Linked DNA regions of Homo sapiens: regions 1 and 3 are each linked to region 2. Evidence: fine-mapped expression QTL. A gene starts in region 2. Each other region holds a variant in brackets. All regions are shown on one strand. Distances are between the middles of the regions. Region 1 has its middle 19 kb from the start of TRIM25. Region 2 holds the start of SCPEP1 (serine carboxypeptidase 1). Region 3 has its middle 53 kb from the start of AKAP1-DT.

Region 1 (6,466 bases), 46 kb after region 2:
TATTAAGGGCAGTTGGCTTTGCCCCTTACTATGAGTGCGTGGCCCAGTGGTGCCACTCACTAGCAGATTTATGCTGAAGTGCAGCAGTTCATTCCGTATTGGTTTTGCTCCATCAGAGCAAACATCAATGCTGTGAAAAGACAACATAATCATAGTAGCTTTGACCTTGCAGATCCCTAAAAGGGTCTTGAGGGCAAGAGTCCATAGACCACACTTGGAGAACCACTGACATCGTGGAAAGAAAACAGGTTTTGAAGTCAGATTTGGGTCCACATCTGAGCCAGGTTACCTAGGGTGAGTGTCTTCATTTGCAGCATGGGCCTAACCCATGCTCAGACTTATAGTGAAAAATTAAAATCATGCTAGACTAGACCCTGGCACACAGCAGATGTGCAGAAGTATTGATCTACTCTTAAGCCTCTAATCAGACTCAAAAGAGGGTGATTAATAAAGTTCAACTCATTAATATTCAGAAAAAGAATAATGACTGAGTTATTAGCATGGGGTATTCTTATGATGGATTCATTTCACTTTGCAAAAGTTATATATATTTTGAGACAGAGTCTTGCTCTGTCACCCAGGCTGGAGTGCAGTGGCACGGTTTCAGCTCACTGCAACCTCCGCCTCCCAGGCTCAAGCGATTTTGATGCCTCAGCCTCCTGAGCAGCTGGGACTACAGGTGTGCGCCATTGCACCTGGCTTTTTTTTGTATTTGTAGTAGAGACCAGGTTTCACTATGTTGGCCAGGCTGGTCTGCAACTCCTGGCCTCAAGTGATCTGCTCACTTCGGCCTCCCAAAGTGCTTGGATTACAGATATGAGCCACCGCACCCAGCCTGCAAAAGTTACATTAATTTAATCAAAAGGGTATTTGCATCCTGCCTCAAATAGTTGTTCACTCTAAAGGTTCACAGCCTAAATATAAGAGTGCAATCAACACCCAGTGCATGAAACAACCAGGTGTACCCATGAGAATGTGATAGCCATGAGAATATGTCTCTCCCGTGTTCTTTTTTTTTTTTAATTAAATGACTTAAGGATCTACTGCTGGGATCTCCCGTGTTCTGATGGACTCAATGAGGAAATAATGCAGTGGTCTAAACAGTGAGTCTCAACTGGAATTTAGGCACCCGATCTTATGGCCATTGGAAGGTCTTATAATGTTAAAACCAGAAGCCACCTTCCAAATAAAGAAGCCCCACCCTCCACTTTACTTCTGAGACAACAGACTCAAGAGGAGATGACATCACAGAGATGGTGAGTGGTTAGAATGTGGCTGCCACAGTGATGACCCAGGTGCAAATTCTGCTTTGGTCTTAGTCACTTCACCTTAGGCAAGTTCTAACCCCTCTAAGCCTCAATTTCCTCATCAATGTACCCACCAACAGTAGTGTGGTGAGGACGGAATGAGATGATGCATGCAAAGCAGTTAGCACAAGACCTTGTACATCGTTAAGTGCGCATGAGATGTTATTATTTATGTTTCTATTTTGTGACTTGCCTAAGGTCCTGCTCCAAATTTTCAGCAGAACTTGCATCCCATCCTTTTAAATTTATTTTCATCTGTTACAAACAATGTGTGCCACATTTCATGTAGCTGCCATATTTAAACTCTAGTTACATCTTTGGGTAGGAGGAAATCAGTCACCTATTTCTCATCAGAGATACTTTTATCTTGTAGGGCTTGGAAGATTTCTGCTGACTACATTCATCCATTGTCTCCTAACCGTTGTGTCTTCTGATGTTGAATTGACATAGCTTTCTTCCCACTGCTCTAGCCACTTAAAACAAATGATCCCACTTTCAAAGAGGTTATATTAAGACAACAGCAGCTGGGTGTGGTGGCTCATGCCTGTAACCCTAGCACTTTGGGAAGTCAAGGTGGGCAGATCACTGAGGTCAGGAGTATGAGGCCAGCCTGGCCAACATGGCAAAACCCTGTCTCTATCTACTAAAAATACAAAAATTATCTGGGCATGGTGGCGGGTGCCTGTAATCCCAGCTACTCGGGAGGCTGAGGCAGGAGAATTGCTTGAACCTGGGAGGCGGAGGTTGCAGTGAGCTGAGATGGCACCACCGTGGTCCAGCCTGGGCGACAGAGTGAGACTGTCACAAAAACAAAACAAAAAAACCCAACCCAGTTTTGTGGGGTTATTAAATTGAACAGGAGAGAGAAGTCATTCACAGATGGATTAGTGAGAGATTACAGGAAAATAAGCACAGTGAAACCCCAGAGGAATGCAGTTGGGATATAGTGGGAATGGTGTTTGCCTCCTGTCTTCTGCAGATGCTCGCCTCAATCATTTTATTAACCTTGCAGTAACACAAACCCACATGATAAGGGACCAGATTTAGAGACACCATTTACAGGGTTTTGGCAGGGTTTCATCATATAAAATGTGGCAATTAGATCACGCCACTGCACTCCAGCCTGGTGACAGAGCGAAACTCGGTCTCAAAAAAAAAAAATTGGCAATTAAGGTAATGTCTGGACAGGGTGCAGTGGCTCATGCCTGTAATTCCAACACTGGGAGACTGAGGTGGGAGGATTGCTGGAGGCCAGGTATTCCAGACCAGCCTGGGCACATAGCGAGACCGCATCTCTACAGAAAAATAGAAACAAATTAGCTGGGCTTGGTGGTGTGTGCCTATAATTTCAGCTACTCAGGAGGCTGCAGTGGGAGGATCACTTGAGCCCAAGAGGTCAAGGCTGCAGTGAGCTATGATTGCACCACTGCACTCCAGCCTAAATGACAGAGCAAAGACTGTCTTGAAAAAATAAAATAAAATAATGATATTTGTAGGGTA[C/T]ATTGGGGTAAGCAGAGCTGTAGAGCTCAAAGTCTTGGAATGCAGGTAATGTGAGCCATTTGAGCATACCAGTGCTTTGCAACAGAGCAGTTGGTTTAGGGGCAAGGAATTAGTAGTTTAGGACCAGAATGCCCTGACCAGCCCTGACTATCCCTACCATCATGTTGGCCTGGCCACCATCAGCATAGGAGAAGCCATCACTGCCACTGTGGCCCCAGATGGAGACCCACAGCTGGAGACAAGAAAATTATCACAAGGAAGCTTTGGAGAGTAGAAATGACAGTAGCTATGTGCCAGCTGTTTTTCCAAGCACTTTACAGGTATTAATTCATTTACATAACTTAGGAGATAGGTACTGTTATTTTCTCCCTTTCACAGAAGAGGAAACTGAGGCACAGAGGTTAAACTCCTTGCCTATGAATACAGTGAATGAAAGAGCCTGATTCAAACACAGGTTGTCTTCTCCAGAACTTGTACTCAACCACTATGTCCCATAAAGAAACAGGTGCAGAATTAAGTGAAAAAGTAAATTATAGCACATTATATACTTACAGAGTTTATTTCTCATTTGAATTTTAAAAGGAAGCTCCTTGGGTGTGGTGGTATGCCTGTAGTCCTAGCTACTTGGGAGGCTGAGGTGGGAGAATCACTTGAGCCTGGGAGGTTGAGGCTGCAGTGAGCTGTCACCATGTCACTGCACTTCAGCCTGAGTGACAAGAGTGAGACTTTTTCCAAAAAAAAAAAAAGGCTCCTGATGTAGGATATGGATAAAAATGTTCTGGAAGGACATGCATGAAACGTAATAATAGTCACTGACTGCTCTGCAGAGGGACTGATGGGTAAGGAGCTGCTGCTTTTTTTTTTTTGAGACATCCGGGCTGGAGTGCAGTGGCACTATCTCGGCTCACTGCAACCTCTGCCTCCCAGGTTCATGCGATTCTCCTGCCTCAGCCTCCTGAATAGCTAAGATTACAGGCATGCACCACCACGCTTGACTAATTTTTGTATTTTTAGTAGAAATAGGGTTTCACCACATTGGCCAGGCTGGTCATGAACTCTTGACCTCAAGTGGTCCACACGCCTCAGCCTCCCAAAGTGCTGGAATTACAGGCAAGAGCCACTGTGCCTGGCCATACAACTTTACAAAAGCACAGCTTAGTTTTTATTGACTCCAAATTATGAAAAATGGGGAAAAAGGAAAAATAATGGAAACATTATTTTGAAGAGTTGTAGCTAAGAAAAATTAGAATTCAGTCCAAACTGTAAAAAATAATAAAAATGAAAAATATTAGGCAAGATTAGAATCTAGCAACATGTGTACTATAGTTTTTGAAACAATTTTTCTCTCTCCAGTTTCCCATTTTTACTAAAGACAGATCATTATGGGACTGATTTGCATTATTATACTTGGCCTAATTATTTGTATATAGTGCAGCAAGGATAATTTTTTTTTACATAGGCTTTTAAATTGGCTTTGATGGAACTTTGTTCCATAGAAGGAATCTCAGATAAGACTTTTTAAAAGCTGAACGTGGCCATGGATTTGTACCATCAAATACCTATGAGTTGGGTGATTCCTCTCCTCTTGTGGTTCCAAGATAAACTTGGTGCTCCTGGGCCTGTCAGAAAGTGACATTCTTTACTTATCACAGGTCAGAAACCCTGTACAGGAACTGTAGACAAAGGTATGAGGCCAGTTTTTCCAAGGGGTTCCTACTGGCTCTATAAGTCAAGTTTGATTCCTTAAAGCACACCATTCCAGTCAAAGCCTTAGTAAAATAACTAGTTTCTCCAGTTGTGTCCTGTTACAAATTAAAACAGATTCTTATTGCACTTATGCAAATAACTGTATTGTCATAAGTTAAGAACACTCACAGTTTCCAAATTATGTAGAAATCAGGTAGAGAGAAACAAATAGACTCCAAATTTTGTTCATGGGTGCATACTCAATTGTTAAAAGCTGTAAATAGCTTAAAAGAAAAGTTTTCTTCATTCTGAAAAACGAAACAAAGGATCAGCAACACTTTAAGCAAAAAGTTAAAAAGATTACTTCAGACTTCTATTAGTTTAGTCTATGCAGTGAATTCCTGTTCTGCGTGATATTCATGAACATTTAAGCTCTCCATGAGTACTGAAAGTTTTTCCTTAATTCTGATGTCACAATCTCCAAAGTTATCAGAAACCTGCATTCAAGAGCACCTATTAGAGTTTTATAGCTGATTATAAAACCACCTTCTAAAGAGGACCAAAACAAGACAAAAATTGTCTGTGGATGACAAAAAGTTTTAGTGCAGCCATAGTCAAAGACACAATTGACAGGAAATCTGTCACTTCTGTGGCACGTAATACTTTAATGTAACAATTATTACTGATAACATACATTAAGTCATATCAGTATTATAGGAGTTTCCCATAATTTTGGAACATATATGACTAACATATTTATACAAATACAGCCCAAAGAAAACCAAACACCATTTCATATTTGTCAATGCTTCCTGTATAATTTTTATACCAAGTAAGCCAAATATGTCATTTTTGGACTTTAGGGAACCTATTAATATCTTAAAGAGTTACTTAGGTCAGAAAGAGATAATTTATCATTTAATTTTGGAAACTTTGTCAAATACCAAAAGTTTAAAACACTTGATATTACAAAATAGGATCCCAGGCCATTGTAAAATAAGTCATTCATTTAACCAAAGTAATAATTCAAAGATTTTTTAAAAAGGCAAAAACCTTCATTCTTTGAGACAGGAGACTTAATTTTCCAAATGATAAGCCCTAATAAAAACGGCATGAAGACAATTAAATTTTTTTCCAAAATTTTATAAGCAATCTATAAAATTTTTATCTTGACCATAAGATATAACTTCCATAAACCTTTATAACCTTTAATAAGGAGTTGGTTAATGCTTCAAGAAAACCTTGTTAATTTGACACAGGGGCCCATATGCTGGTCTTGCATCAGTGTGCCTTTGACATTAATGATTAATTTATAGAGAAACTGAACTTATTTTATCTCTCAAAATCAGCCCTTACAATCTCACATGCCCACCTCTTCTGCAATAGTCCCTGGGCCTTGAGGAGTTGAATAGCTTTAATTTCTGGCCCTGTGTCTCAGGAATGCAGTTTGTTTTGATTAGCATCTTCTATTGGGCCTGAAGATGAGGCTTTAATTGCTGCCAGTATTTAAGATTTAGCAAGACTTGGTGTTCTTTTTGGACCCAGGAGTCAAAGCCCTGTAACTCAATGTCACAAGTACTTTAAAAGGGCATACAGAGAGATACACAGATGTAATAACCTTAATTTAAACAAATTTTATTCTCAATTTTTTCCCTAAGCAAACCAAAGCTTAATAATAATATGACAACTTGATCATATAAACTTTTTTTTGTTTTTATAAATCCTCTTATTGTGATTTATACAGACCATTCATGACATGCTTGGACTTTCTGGTTTGTCTTGAACATCCCTTTCTTAAACAACCAGTTATTTTACTTTAGGACTAAATTTACCACACAAGATTCTTTCTCATATGAAATTATTTCTCTTTAAGCTTTTTTAAATGATTACCAAAAAACCCTCTTTATTTTCATAACTTTCTTTACATCTCTCTTATTTCTTTGTTCCTTTTACCTTGTTTTATACATGACCTT
Region 2 (6,466 bases):
CGCCTCCCGGGTCCAAGCAATTCTCATGCCTCAACCATCTGAGTAGCTGGGATTATAGGTATGTGCTACCATGCCTGGATAATTTTTGTATTAAATATTTTTAGTAGAGACAGCGTTTCACTATGTCGGCCAGCCTGGTCTCGAACTCCTGGCCTCGTATGATCCACCCACCTCGGCCTCCCAAAGTTCTGGGATTACAGACATGAGCCACTGTGCCCGGCCTCAAAACACTTTCTATCACTATGTATTCAAATGTATCATCAGGAGTTTTCAGTGAGCCTTCTTGTGACCGTCTGGAAATATAAAGAGACTCTGGCAAAAGGCTAGAACCCCCTCGCCCTCTGATTTAGCCTCCTTGGCTATACCATTGCCTCAGCCTACCTCAGAAGCACGCCGAACCCCCAGGTCACACTGCTGGACCAAATCCGCCCTTCACTGCTGAGACATCAGCCCAAAAAGCAAGCAAAGAGCCACACAGAGGAGACTTGGCTTTGACCTCAGGCCAGGCTGGGAAGCTACTTTACCTGAAGCCACATGACCAGGGGCAGTTCTGAGAAGTTCTTGCAGGAGTTGGTGGCATAATAGAGCCACCAGAACATGTAGGCATCCTTGCGGACCGTCACATAATCCCATACTTCCTTGCCCTCCTCTGTGGGCCAGTCAATGACAGCTCCTGAAACAGAAGTTCAATTTCACTCTCCAGAAGAGTGCCTAATGTACAGGTAAATTCCAAGCCTGGTAGAGACAGCCATGCTAGGCTAGAGATGATTTGTTTTATAGTTTGGTAATTTAGCCACCCCAGTACATTGCAGGAATAAGGAAAAAACCTCGGCTATGAAAAAAGAAACCAAACTTAACAGCGGCATAGGAGGCCAGGGGCTTTCACTTTTTCCTCTACACTTTTCTGTAATGTTTGGATTTTTAACAATAAATATGAAACACTTTTTTTTTTTTTTTTTTTTTTTTGATACGAAGTCTCGCTCTTGTTGCCCAGGCTGGAATGCAATGGCGCAATCTCGGCTCACCGCAACCTCTGCCTTCCGGGTTCAAGCGATTCTCCTGCCTCAGCCTTCCAAGTAGCTAGGATTACAGGCATGCACCACCACGCCTGGCTAATTTTGTATTTTTAGTAGAGATGGGGTTTCTCCATGTTGGTCAGGCTGGTCTCGCACTCCTGACCTCAGGTGATCTGCCCGCCTAGGCCTACCAAAGTGCTGGGATTACAGGAAATACTTTTATAATTCTGTAAAAACAAGAGAGATTTATATTTTGAGTAAAAAAGTAAAAATCTCAGAATGCAATATACTGGTTTTTATATCGTATTTAATACATGAGTAAGACACCAGGCTTGGTGGCTCACTCCTGTAATCCCAACACTTTGGAAGGCCAAGACAGGCTGATAGCTTGTGCATAGGAGTTCAAAACCAGTCTAAGCAACATAGCAACACCCCATCTCTACAAAAAATGCAAAAATTAGCTGGGCATTGTGGCATATGCCTGTGGTCCCAGCTACTCAGGAGACAGAGGTAGGAGAATCGCTTGAGCCCAGTAGGTTGAGGCTGCAGTGAGCTGTGATCACACCAGTGCACTCCAGCCTAGGTGACAGAGGGAGATCCTATCTCAAAAAAACAAAAAACCAACCAACCAAACAAACAAAAAACATGAGTGAAGAGGCATCACAAATTAGTGGGGCTGAGAATATTCAATATACAGTAATGGAGCAACAATTACCTTTTTTGGAGAAAAAAAGAGAAATTTAGGTCCTCTCAACACTATAAACGAAATAAGTTCCATGAGGATCAAGCAATTAAATTTTAAACTTTAAACATTAAAAAAATACAAAAATATAGTTAAATATATTTCTAATGTCTGGATGAGGAAAGAATCTAAGCAAACCCCAGAGACTGTACAAAAGAAACAATGATGGAGGTGAGAACAGAAACTTGTTATATTTCTATACAACAAAATTTCTGTAAATCAAAAATAAAAAGGCAAACAGCAAGGAAAGAGCTACAACAAATATGAAAAAGGGCAATTTTCCTAACTCATGTAGATGATTTTTTTAAACTGAACGATATATATCTGTGTATGTGTGTTTAATATACGTATCCTATAATCCCCTAACTCCAATTTTCCTTACTTAACTTTTCTAGCATCCACAAAATATGTTTTAGAAAAGAGTAGGCTAAATACATTTTCTTTGTCACTTTTTGCTAACGTAACAATTTCCAAGTTATAGCATCTTTTTTTTTTTCCTCCAAAACCACTCTGGGAAAAAAAAAAGTAGAGGGGCTGTTGTTAAAAGATGATGGGGGGGATCCCCTCGGTGACTGGAGTTTTCTGCCTTCTATTTCCTCCCTTCTCAAATTTCAAGCCCCATTGGTCAGTAAAAGAACACTGGTCCCAACAGCTAAAGAGACAGGAGTAGAGAGGAAGACAATGAGACAACGTCTTGTAAATAAGAAAGAGCCAGGGTGGTGGCCTGTGTCTGCAGTCCGGGCTACTTGGGATGCTGAAGTAGGAAGATCACTTGAGTCAGGCAGTTCCAGACCAGCCTGGGCAACATAGTGAGACCCTGACTCAAAACAAAACAACAATGAAGATTAAGAAAACCAGAAAGTGTCCTGAGGAGCAAAACAGATGACTAAAACATTACAGACTTAGCTATAAGGTTCTATATACAAGTAACACACGATTATATTGTCCTTGACAATAACAGATAAGGCTGCGCTCCCTTGAGAATGACAGATAAGGCGCAGGTACCTTTTGACCTAACCCCAGGCACTTCTCCCTTGCCTGGCAGTGACTACTGGTAAAATTGGCAGAGCTACTTATTTTACAAAATCTCCCAGACACTCGCCTAAGGGCCAGATGATCCCCATTTTAGAAAAGGAAAACAAAACTGTTCAACAACTTGCCTAAGGTCACAAGGCAAGCTTGTGGCCAGTTCCAATTCTCAGTGCTTGCTTCAGACTAGGAGAGGTTTTGCTGAAAATCAATTTGCAAGTCATCCTATTAAACACAAATCTGTTTTTTGCCAAAAAAGATCGCTGTGGGGGAAGATGTTATCTTGTTTGTTTTGATCAAGAAAAGAAAGGGCCTTATCTCAATGAAATGTCCCATTCGTGGTAGGATGTAAGGGTACTTTTGACCGCAGATTTCAGCTTAAAATAAAACGACCTTATATCCTCATTTAGCAGCCAATCATGGCCTTTGAATCGGGGAAACCTCATTGACCAGCAGTTTCCCCAAATCATACATTTCTGCACACAGCTTCTATCTAGGCGTAGGAGAGAACGGAAGCACTCAGACCACCCAGAGCCAGAAAAGGACAAAAAAAGCACTTTGAATTTTTTAAGGAAAAAAAAAAAAAAGAGTGAGATTCAAAAGCAATATAATTACACAAGGTAAGAACCGGGGAAAAGAGACATGTTTTCAAAAGCACAAACCCAGTAACAAACTCTCACGCCTGGAGAAAAAAGAGGCATGGCAGCTGGTGCGCCTCTTGCTTGAACCTACCTGCGTTCAGGCCCAGCAGCAGCGGCAGCAGCAGCAACCACCGCGGGACGGGAGAGCGCCGCAGTGCCAGCTCCATGACAAGTACCGCACGGCAGCATCAGCAACAGGCTGGACCCGGCGCCCCATCACGTGACGGAGGCGGACGGGGCGGGTCGGGGGCGGGGCCTGCGGGTCGGGGGCGGGGCCTGAATGGGCATGGGGCGGGGCCTGGGCGGACCCGGCAGCTTGCTGAGACCCGCACGCCCTCTGCCCGGCAAGCCCACCAGGACCCCTGCAAATGCGCAGGGGCCGTTCTGTCCGCCTGGCCAGGTTCTCTGTCATTTTAGGGAGAGTATTTCGGAAAGGAGACATTTGATGCAGATGTTGGATTTAGGTTGTGTGACCGGATCGAAATACTAAAGGGAATAACCACCGCCCTTTCTACCCCTCCCATCTCTTCCTTCCCTCAGCAAAAGAACCGACGTTTTCCAACACTGCTACATCTGCGAAGTCAGATTAAGCCAGCTGGTCGTTGGCAAACAGCGGGGTTTCATTTTCAGATATGTATTTTTTAAATTATTTTTCTTTTAAAGTTATGTATGTTATAAACGTTTTGGAAATATGAACAAAAAAGTTATACATAACTATTGTTGGCATTTTTTCCCATAGTCTTTTACGTCATTTTAAAAAACACTAATAAAGATTTTTATTTTTTTTTTCTTTTTTGATAATTTGTCATTAGTATTACTCTGTGTTACGTTATCTTCACAGCAGTCATTTTAAAGAGAGAATCGAGGGTCTGGGGACGGGAAAGGAAGAAAAAGTGGATGACAGAGCTGTTTTCCTCTGTGTGTGTGTGTGTGTGTGTGTGTGTGTCTGTCTGTCTGTCTGAAGGTCATTTTTACGTTAGAGGGTACTGAATAACTCACCTCACAGCTAGGAGACAAGCTACAGCAGGGGCTGTAGGAGAGGCTACTTCTAAATACTGCTTCAAAAGTACATGTAACAAAAAGCAAAAAACAAATCAAAGTACATGTGGCCACTTCTCCTCTTTCCCTGCTCCTTTCTCCCTCCCCTCGCCCTTGACCCCCATAAATGGAAGTGCTTTTTACTCTGCAGCCATTGTCTGGACAGAGCCTTGACCCCGCCCTGCCTGTGAGGTGCCCCTGCACTGAAAGCTGCGGCAGAGAAAAATATGCCGCCGGGTTCTGTCATGCTTTAAGCATGGGATGGTCCCGAATGCATAAAATCCATAATGCCTGGGCAACATATTGAGACCCCCTCTCTACAAAAAATAACAAAAATTAACTGATGTGGTGACACGCGCCTGCTGTCCAAGCTACTCAGAAGGCTGAGGTGGGAGGATCACTTGAGCCCAGGAGCTCCAGGCTGCAGTGAGCAGGTGTTCCATGCCATATGGGAGATACATAAAAGTACATGCTTAGTTAAAAATAAATAACTATCTAGCAAACTTTTCCTGTCTGAAGCTTCCAAGTTGGTCTGTATCACTAGGGCTTGAAATACACTTACCCTTCCACTGCAGTCAGAATTTTAGGGTTTCAATTTTTTTGCCACAAAAATAACACTACAGCCCAGGGCGCAAGGTGGCTCACACCTGTAATCCCAGCACTTTGGGAGGCCGAGGTGGGCAGATTACTTGAGGTCGGGGGTTTGAGACCAGCCTGGCCAACATAGTGAAACCCCATTTCTACAAAAATACAAAAATTAGCTGGGTGTGGTGGCACTTGCTTGTGGTCTTAACTACTCGGGAGGCTAAGGCATGAGAATCGCTTGAACCCAGGAGGTGGAGGTTGCAGTGAGCCAAGATGGTGCCACTGCACTCCAGCCTGGGTGACAGAGTAAGACCCCATCTCACACACGCACAAAAAAATTGTGCATTTTATAATACGCTAATATGACTTCAAAAGGAAAAAATATAAATAAAATGTCACCTCTAGTTAATGATATTCATATTAAAGTGTTTAGGGGAAGGTGTACCAATGTATACAATTTTCTTTGAAATGTATCCAGATGCTGGCACAGTGACCTATGCCTGTAATCCAGCTCTTTGGGAGACCAAGGTGGGATGATTGATTGAGCCTAGAAGTTTGAGACCAGCCTGGACAATATAGTGAGACCATGTCTCTTAAAAAAAAAAAAAGTATCCAGAATATAAGATGGATTGATGGATAGGATGGAAAGAAGGTTGGATACATGGATAAATACATGATATCAAGTATTACAGTAACATTTTCTTTTTTCATTACAGTTTATAATCACAGGAACAAAATAAACAAAAACCACATGTAGAAACCAGATTAAAGCTTGTTATCCTTACAGGCAGTGGCGAAATTCCAATCTTCAGGGTTGGAGTGGTCTTTGTTTAAGAAAAATACCTCCTTGGTTCATTGAAGTTAGGAGTTGGGAGCTGATGGCATAGTAGCTGCAGCCAAGGCAACAAAAGATAATTGCCAAACTGTGCGGCCCAGGAGAAATTTTGTTTTGCTCCTAGGAGAGGAAAGAAGAGAGAAAGATGAAAAGAAGTGAAGGCTACATATAGAGAAAGATTAGCCAAAGAGAGTTGAGGCTGGAAGAAGAGCCAGTAGAAATTTCTCCGATGAGGAGTGGCTATGTAATCCCCCAATGGGTTCTTTTTGCCTGCTGCCCAGATAGAGCCAGCCAATTTATGAAGGCAGGGGAATTGCAATGGGGAAACAGTTTAATTCATGCAGAGCTGGCTGAAAGGAAGACTGGAGTTTTATAATTACTCAAATCAGTCTCTGAGGAGTAGTTTCAAAGACAGTTTAGGGGTAGGAGCAGAGGTGGCTAGGCAATGGATGCTTGCTGCTGATTGGTTGGGTTGGAGATGAAATCACAGGGAGTTGAAGCTGTCTTCTTGCGCGGATTTGCTTCCAGGTGGGGCCGCAGGAGCAGTTGGTAGGTCCAGGTGGAGCCAGGTGTCAGACAT
Region 3 (6,466 bases), 53 kb before region 2:
TGGAGGAGTCTGAAGGTATGCAGGCTGGCAGAAGGAAGCTGGCTTGGATGAACATCTTGCCATATGGAGTCACAAATTGAATGGCCCCTTTTCAGCTTGGTTGAGAGCAAGCTCCTGAAGCTTTAATCTGGGGTCAGTTTGGGGAAAAGAAGAAATCTTGCAGAAACTTGTCAGGACATATCACATGTAGGTTGGAAGAGGGACATTGACAGGGGCAATCTAGTCTAGGGTGAGTTCTGTATGCCAGAGGACACCAGACTAAGGTATGTCACTGATGATGCTATTTAATTCCAGAGGGAGTCAGTTGGATGCAGCTCTTGGTTTTGAGTCTGGCCCTAATGCTCTCAGCTGACAAATTCCTTTTTCTTCTTTTGAGGCAGGGTCTCACTGTCACCCAGGCTAGATGCAGCGGTGCCATCACAGCTCACGTGGTCCTCCCACCTCAGCCTCCCAAGTAATTAGGACTACAGGCATGCACCACCATACTTGGCTAATTTTTGTTTTTTTTTTTGTAGAGGCAGGGTTTCACCGTGTTGCCCAGGCTTGTCTATAACTCCTTGGCTCAAGCGATCCTCCCACCTTGGCCTCCCAAAGTGCTGGGATTCCAGGCATGAGCCACTGTGCCCAGCTTGGCTGACAAATTCTAATGGCAGAAAAGATCAAATACCAAGATTGCTTGTAAACATCACAGCAAAATATTGCACTTACTTCACTGCCCCCTGAAGTGACCACATTTTTCTTTTGTTTTGAGACAGGGTCTCACTCTGTCACCCAGGTTGCAGTGCAGTGGCATGATCATAGCTCACTGCAGCCTCAACTTCCTGGGCTCAAGTGATTCTCCCACCCCACACTCTTAAGTAACTGGAACTACAAGCATGCACCACCATGCCTGGCATTTTTTTTATTTTTATTTTTATTTTTATTTTTATTTGTAGAGATAGGATCTCACTATATTGCCCAGGCTGGTCTAGAACTCCTGGGCTCAAATGATCCTCCCACCTTGGCCTCCCAAAGTGCTGAGGTTACATGTCTGAGCCATTGTACCCAGTCAGTGACCACTTTTGAGAAACAAAAATACAAATTCCCAATCCTAACATATAGATCTGAGCCCCAAAGCATCTGTGTCTTCACCAGATTTGATTTACTTTAAGTACATTGTTTAAAAAAAATTAAAATAAATAGAGAGAGGGTCTCCCTATGTTGCCCAGGCTGGTCTTGAACTCCTGAGCTCAAGCGATCCTCCATGTTGGCCTCCCAAAGGGCTGGGATTACAGGTGCGAGCCACTGCATCTGGCTTTAACCAAGTACATTCGAACACATGTTCTTTTAATTTAGGGTTTTGGGGTTTTGTTTGTTTTTTTTTTTTCTTTGCTTTTTTACATTGGTATAGTTATTTTTAAATATTTTCTCAGCAGTTGCTTTTTCCTAATTCAGATGAAAACAGGGCCTGGCTTGGGCTTTAGCCAATTAAAACAGGCTATGCTTCTACGAGCAGAGTTAAATGTGTTCCCAGAGAGTTGCCAGTGCCACTTTATTTTTGGTTACAGTTCTCTCAAGAGGACCTTTTAATAGCTCTTGAAGTAGGGGCAGTAATCCTTGGAAACAAGACAAACCAGTTTTCTCCCCTCTACCCCACAACTCCTTTTTGCCTTTACACTTGAAGCAACTAAATTAGAAGTTGGACGTCACGAATCCTATAGTTTTACTTGAAATTTCCTGCTGCTGACACTAATGTTTTCTTTTCTGTTAGAATCAGGAACACTTAAAAAGTCAAACCTCCTCGTGACCTGATCTCAAAGTACATTTGAAATTTTTTTTTTTTTTTTTTTTTGAGACGGAGTTTTGCTCTTGTTGCCCAGGCTGGAGTGCAGTGGCACGGTCTCGGCTCACTGCAATCTCCGCCTCCCAGGTTCAAGTGATTCTCCTGCCTCACCCTCCTCCTGAGTAGCTGGGATTACAGGCACCTGCCAGCACACCCAGCTAATTTTTGTATTCTTAATAGAGACGGGGTTTGACCATGTTGGCCAGGCTGGTCTCGAACTCCTGACCTCAGGTGATCTGCCAGCTCGGCCTCCCAAAGTGTTGGGATTACAGGCATGAGCCACCGTGCCCGGCCTGTAATGTTTTTTTCCCATGGCAACATTTCTCAGCTACTCTGGGCTTATGAAGAAGAGTATAACAATGCCTGTCCCAGTTTTAAAACCACATTGTATTTAGTCAGAATTAGGCATGGCTGTAAGTGGTAGAAAACCCAAACCAACAGTAGCTTAAGACAAAAATTTATTTCCATGTAAAGAGAGAAAAGGAGTACAAAGGTGGAATGGTGGCTCCAGTCCTCAAAATCCTCGGGGACCTCGGCTCATTCTAGCATATCTTCCTACCATGATCCCAAATGGTTGCATTCACATTCCAGCCAGCAAAATAAAAGAGGGTGAAAGGGAACAAAAGGTACACCAAAGGGGACGGTTTCCAGCTGCTGCCAGAACACTTCTGTTTATATCCCGGTGGCCAGAACGTAGTCACGTGGCCACACTTAACTGCTGGGAAATGTAGTATTTTTTTTTTTTTTTCTGGATCGCTGTGTGCGCAGTTAAAAATTCTGCCTCTATGCTATACACCCTAGGGCCTATGGTCTTAAAATTTACCAATTTCTATCAATTTTGCCTTGAGAATTTGAAACACCTCTTGAGATTACTAAATAACAATATAAGGTGGTATAAAATCAGTATCAGAAATACCCCCACTCTTTATAATATTTATACAACATTTTACCAGAATTTTGCTTTTGGGAGTCCATAGTAATTAAATAACTCTAAAACCAGAAAAAGCTTTAAGCAAAATAATGTTCATCACAGTTATTTATAATCAGAAAAACTGAAATGACACTTTGAGAGGCCCAGGTGGGCGATTGCTAGAGCCCAGGAGTTTGAGATCAGTCTGGGCAACATGGTGAAACCCTGTCTCTACAAAAAAAATTTAAAAAATAAGCCAGGCATGGTGGTGCACACTTGTAATCCCAGCTACTTGGGAAGCTGAGGTGAGAAGATCACATGAGCCAGGGATGTCGAGGTTGCAGTGAGCCAAGATGGCACCACTGCACTCCAGCTGGGTGACAGAATGAGACCCTGTCTGAAAAAAAAAAAAAAAAAGAAAAGAAAAACTGAAATTTGAATAAATGTCAAAATATGGAGGACTGGTCAGATGAAGTGTAGAACATTTTCTTAATGGAATATTATGTATCTGTTAAAAAATGATATTTACAAGGCCAGACACAGTGGCTCAGGCCTGTAATCCCAGCCCTTCAGGAGGCCAAGGCAGGAGGGTCACTTGAGGCCAGGAGTTCAACACCAGTCTGGGAAACAAAATGAGACTTTGTCTCTACAAAAAATTGAAAAATTAGCGGGGTGTGGTGGTGGCACCTGTAGTCCCAGCTATGCAGGAGGCTGAGGCAGAAGGATCACTTGAGCACAGAGGTTCAAGGCTGCTGTGAGCTATGACCATACCACTGCACTCTGTTCTCCAGCTTGGACAACAGAGCAAGACCTTCTCTCTTTAAAAAAAAATTATACTGACAAAGAACCCACAGTAACATAGATAAATTCTTATAATGCCC[G/CG]TTAAATAAAAAATATAGGGATATGAATTAAGCCAAATGACTTTTTTGGGTAATGAGACTTTTAATAACTATTTTCCTACATTTCTTTATTTTCTAAATTTTGTTACTATTACACTTATTATTTTATTAGAAATAAAAAATATTGCTGGGCGTGGTGGCTCATGCCTGTAATCCCAGCACTTTGGGAGGCCAAGACGGGTGGATCACCTGAGGTTAGGAGTTTGAGACCGGCCTGGCCAACATGGTGAAAACTGTCTCTACTAAAAATATAACATTAGCTGGTTGTGGTGGCACATGCTTGTAATCCCAGCTACTCTGGAGGCTGGGGCAGAAGAATTGCTTGAACCCGGGAGGCAGAGGTTGCAGTGGACCGAGATGGCGCCATGGCACTCCAGCCTCGGCAACAAGAGTGAAACTCCATCACAAAGAAGGAAAAATAAAATAAAAAATATCCTATCCTCTAGTCTCTCTAGTTACCTACACTTTACCCATCTTTAGGTACCTACACTCTACCCATCTCTAGATACCTATACTCTACCCATCTCATAGAGCTCAGTTTAATCTGACCTCCTGTCCAAAAGCTTTTCTGGCCATTCCCTCTCTTCTGCATTATTGCTGACACCACTTGTAATGGGAAGTCATTTCTTTTTTTTTTTTTCTTTTTTTTTGGAGCGGGGGAAGAGCCTCACTTAGTTGTCCAGGCTGGAGTATAGTGGCATGATCGTGGCTCACTACCTTGACCTCCCAGGCTCAAGCGATTCTCCCACGTCAGCCTCCTTGAGTAGCTGGGACTATAGGTGCTCACCACCATGCCTGGCTAATTTTAAAAATTTTTTGTAGAAATGGGGTCTCCCTATGTTGCCCAGGCTGGTCTTGAACTCCTAGACTTAAGCAATCCACCTGCCTCAGCCTTCCAAAGTGTTGAGATTACAGATGTGAGCCACCGCGCCTGGCAAAACTCTTTTTTTTTTTTTGTCTTGCCAGCATCAGGCAGAATCCTCTGATGAGAAGCTATTGGGGCCTCAATGAGGTTATACCTTTCCTCTCTCTCCTCCTTGGTAGATACAGAGTAGTCCTGTAGACCCACTAATCAGATGCTCCAGCCCAGGAATTTGAATTGGTGGAAATAAATTTGTAGTCTACGTGGGCTTTGGATATTTGATGATACTAAGATATTTTTCACTTGGGGGGTAGTAGGGGAGTGATGATGGTATTATGGTTGTTTTTAAATTTTATTTTAAAAATGTAGGTGTTCAAGCCCAGCAGAAATGTCCTATCTCCCCATATATTGGAACCTAATTGCCTATGGGATAGTACTAAAGAAGTGGGGCTAGGGGCCAGGGGCAGTGGCTCACACCTGTAATCCCAGCACTTTGGGAGGCTGAGGCAGGTGGATCACCTGAGGTCGGGAGTTTGAGACCAGCCTGACCAACATGGAGAAAGCCCATCTCAACAAAAAATTAGCCAGGCATGGTGGAGCATGCTTGTAATCCCAGCTATTCTGGAGGCTGAGGCAGAAGAATCACTTGAACCCCAAAAGCAGAGGTTGTGGTGAGCTGAGATCGTGCCATTGCACTCCAGCCTGGGCAACAAGAGTGAAACTCCATCTCAAAAAAGAAAAAGAAAAAGAAATGGGACTGGCACAAGTGCCTCTTGCCTGTAATCTCAGCACTTTGGGCGGCCGAGGTGGGAGAATTGCTTGAAGCCAGAAACTTGAGACCAGCCTAGTCAAAATAGTGAGACCCTCTACAAAAAAATAATTAAAAAAAAAAAGAAATAGGGCCTTTAGGAGTGGTTAATGGGAGCGGAACCCTCATGAAAGGGCCCTCACCAGACACCAAACCTGCTGGCATCTTGATTTTGCACTTTCCAGACTCCAGAACTATGAGGAATAAATTTCTGTCATTTATAAATGCCCTAGTCTAAGGTAATTTTGTTATAGCAGCCGGAAAGAACTAAGACACTATGTAGCTTCAATGACACCAAACACAAGGCATTTAGAATAAAAAGGGTTTTCTTCTTCACAACGAAAGGAAAAACTCAGTACTTCACTTGTGACACCAGATGTGTGTGTGTAGCAGGGGTTCCTATACCAAGCAATTCTCCAATTCTCTGGAGATACCAGCTGGGTATCCTACAATTCAATTCAGTTCTGACATGATCTATCTGAAGTTAGTACCTACCCCACAGTCGGTTGCCAATCAAAAGTCCAGCTTGTCACCTGGTGCTTCTGACAGGCTATGAGTCAGAGGGTCCCATGATCCCTTTCTTGAGTTTAATCATTTGCTAAAACAGCTCACAGAACTCAGGTAATGTTTGTTAGTCCATTCTCACATTGCTATAAAGAAATACCTGATTGGGAGGCCGAGGTGGGCGGATCACGAGGTCAGGAGATCGAGACCATCCTGGCTAACACGGTGAAACCCCATCTCTACTAAAAATACAAAAAATTAGCCAGGCGTGGTGGTGGGCGCCTGTAGTCCCAGCACTTCGGGAGGCTGAGGCAGGAGAATGGCATAAACCCTGGAGGCAGAGCTTGCAATGAGCCGAGATCGCACCACTGCACTCCACCCTGGGCAACAGAGTGAGACTCCGTCTCAAAAAAAAAAAAAAAAAGAAATACCTGAGACTGGGTAATGTGTAAAGAAAAGAGGTTTAATTGGCTCATGGTTCTGCATGTTATACAGGTAGCATGGTGCTGGCATCTGCTCGGCTTCTTGGGAGGCCTCAGGAAACTTACAGTCATGGTGAAGGTGAAGGGGGAGCAGGCACCTCACATGGCCAGAGCAGGAGCAAGAGAGAGACTGAGGTGCTGTGAGAGGTGTTTGAACCAGAACGACTCCATCTTGAATA

The links. PIP is the estimated chance that this variant, and not a neighbour inherited with it, causes the effect. A credible set is the group of variants that fine-mapping cannot tell apart.
Region 1: its variant is the best candidate, but not a certain one, in a credible set for the expression of SCPEP1 in blood mononuclear cells (TOPMed, PIP 0.66).
Region 3: its variant is the best candidate, but not a certain one, in a credible set for the expression of SCPEP1 in gastroesophageal junction (GTEx, PIP 0.63).

What each region holds. Positions count from the first base shown.
Region 1 is chr17:56,929,329-56,935,794 of GRCh38, reverse strand. No RefSeq gene overlaps it. Among named protein-coding and RNA genes, the nearest start is that of TRIM25, 19 kb to the right of the region's middle. The variant C/T (reference allele first, on the strand shown) is at 2,808.
Region 2 is chr17:56,975,289-56,981,754 of GRCh38, reverse strand. SCPEP1 (serine carboxypeptidase 1) reads right to left here and starts at 3,624. Exons shown (of 13, transcript NM_021626.3): 1 at 3,520-3,624; 2 at 525-673. The coding sequence starts at 3,595. It overlaps LOC105371836 (a long non-coding RNA gene), which reads right to left. Exons shown (of 4, transcript XR_934875.4): 4 at 5,748-6,006. RefSeq lists a silencer at 3,682-3,741.
Region 3 is chr17:57,028,567-57,035,032 of GRCh38, reverse strand. No RefSeq gene overlaps it. Among named protein-coding and RNA genes, the nearest start is that of AKAP1-DT, 53 kb to the left of the region's middle. The variant G/CG (reference allele first, on the strand shown) is at 3,614.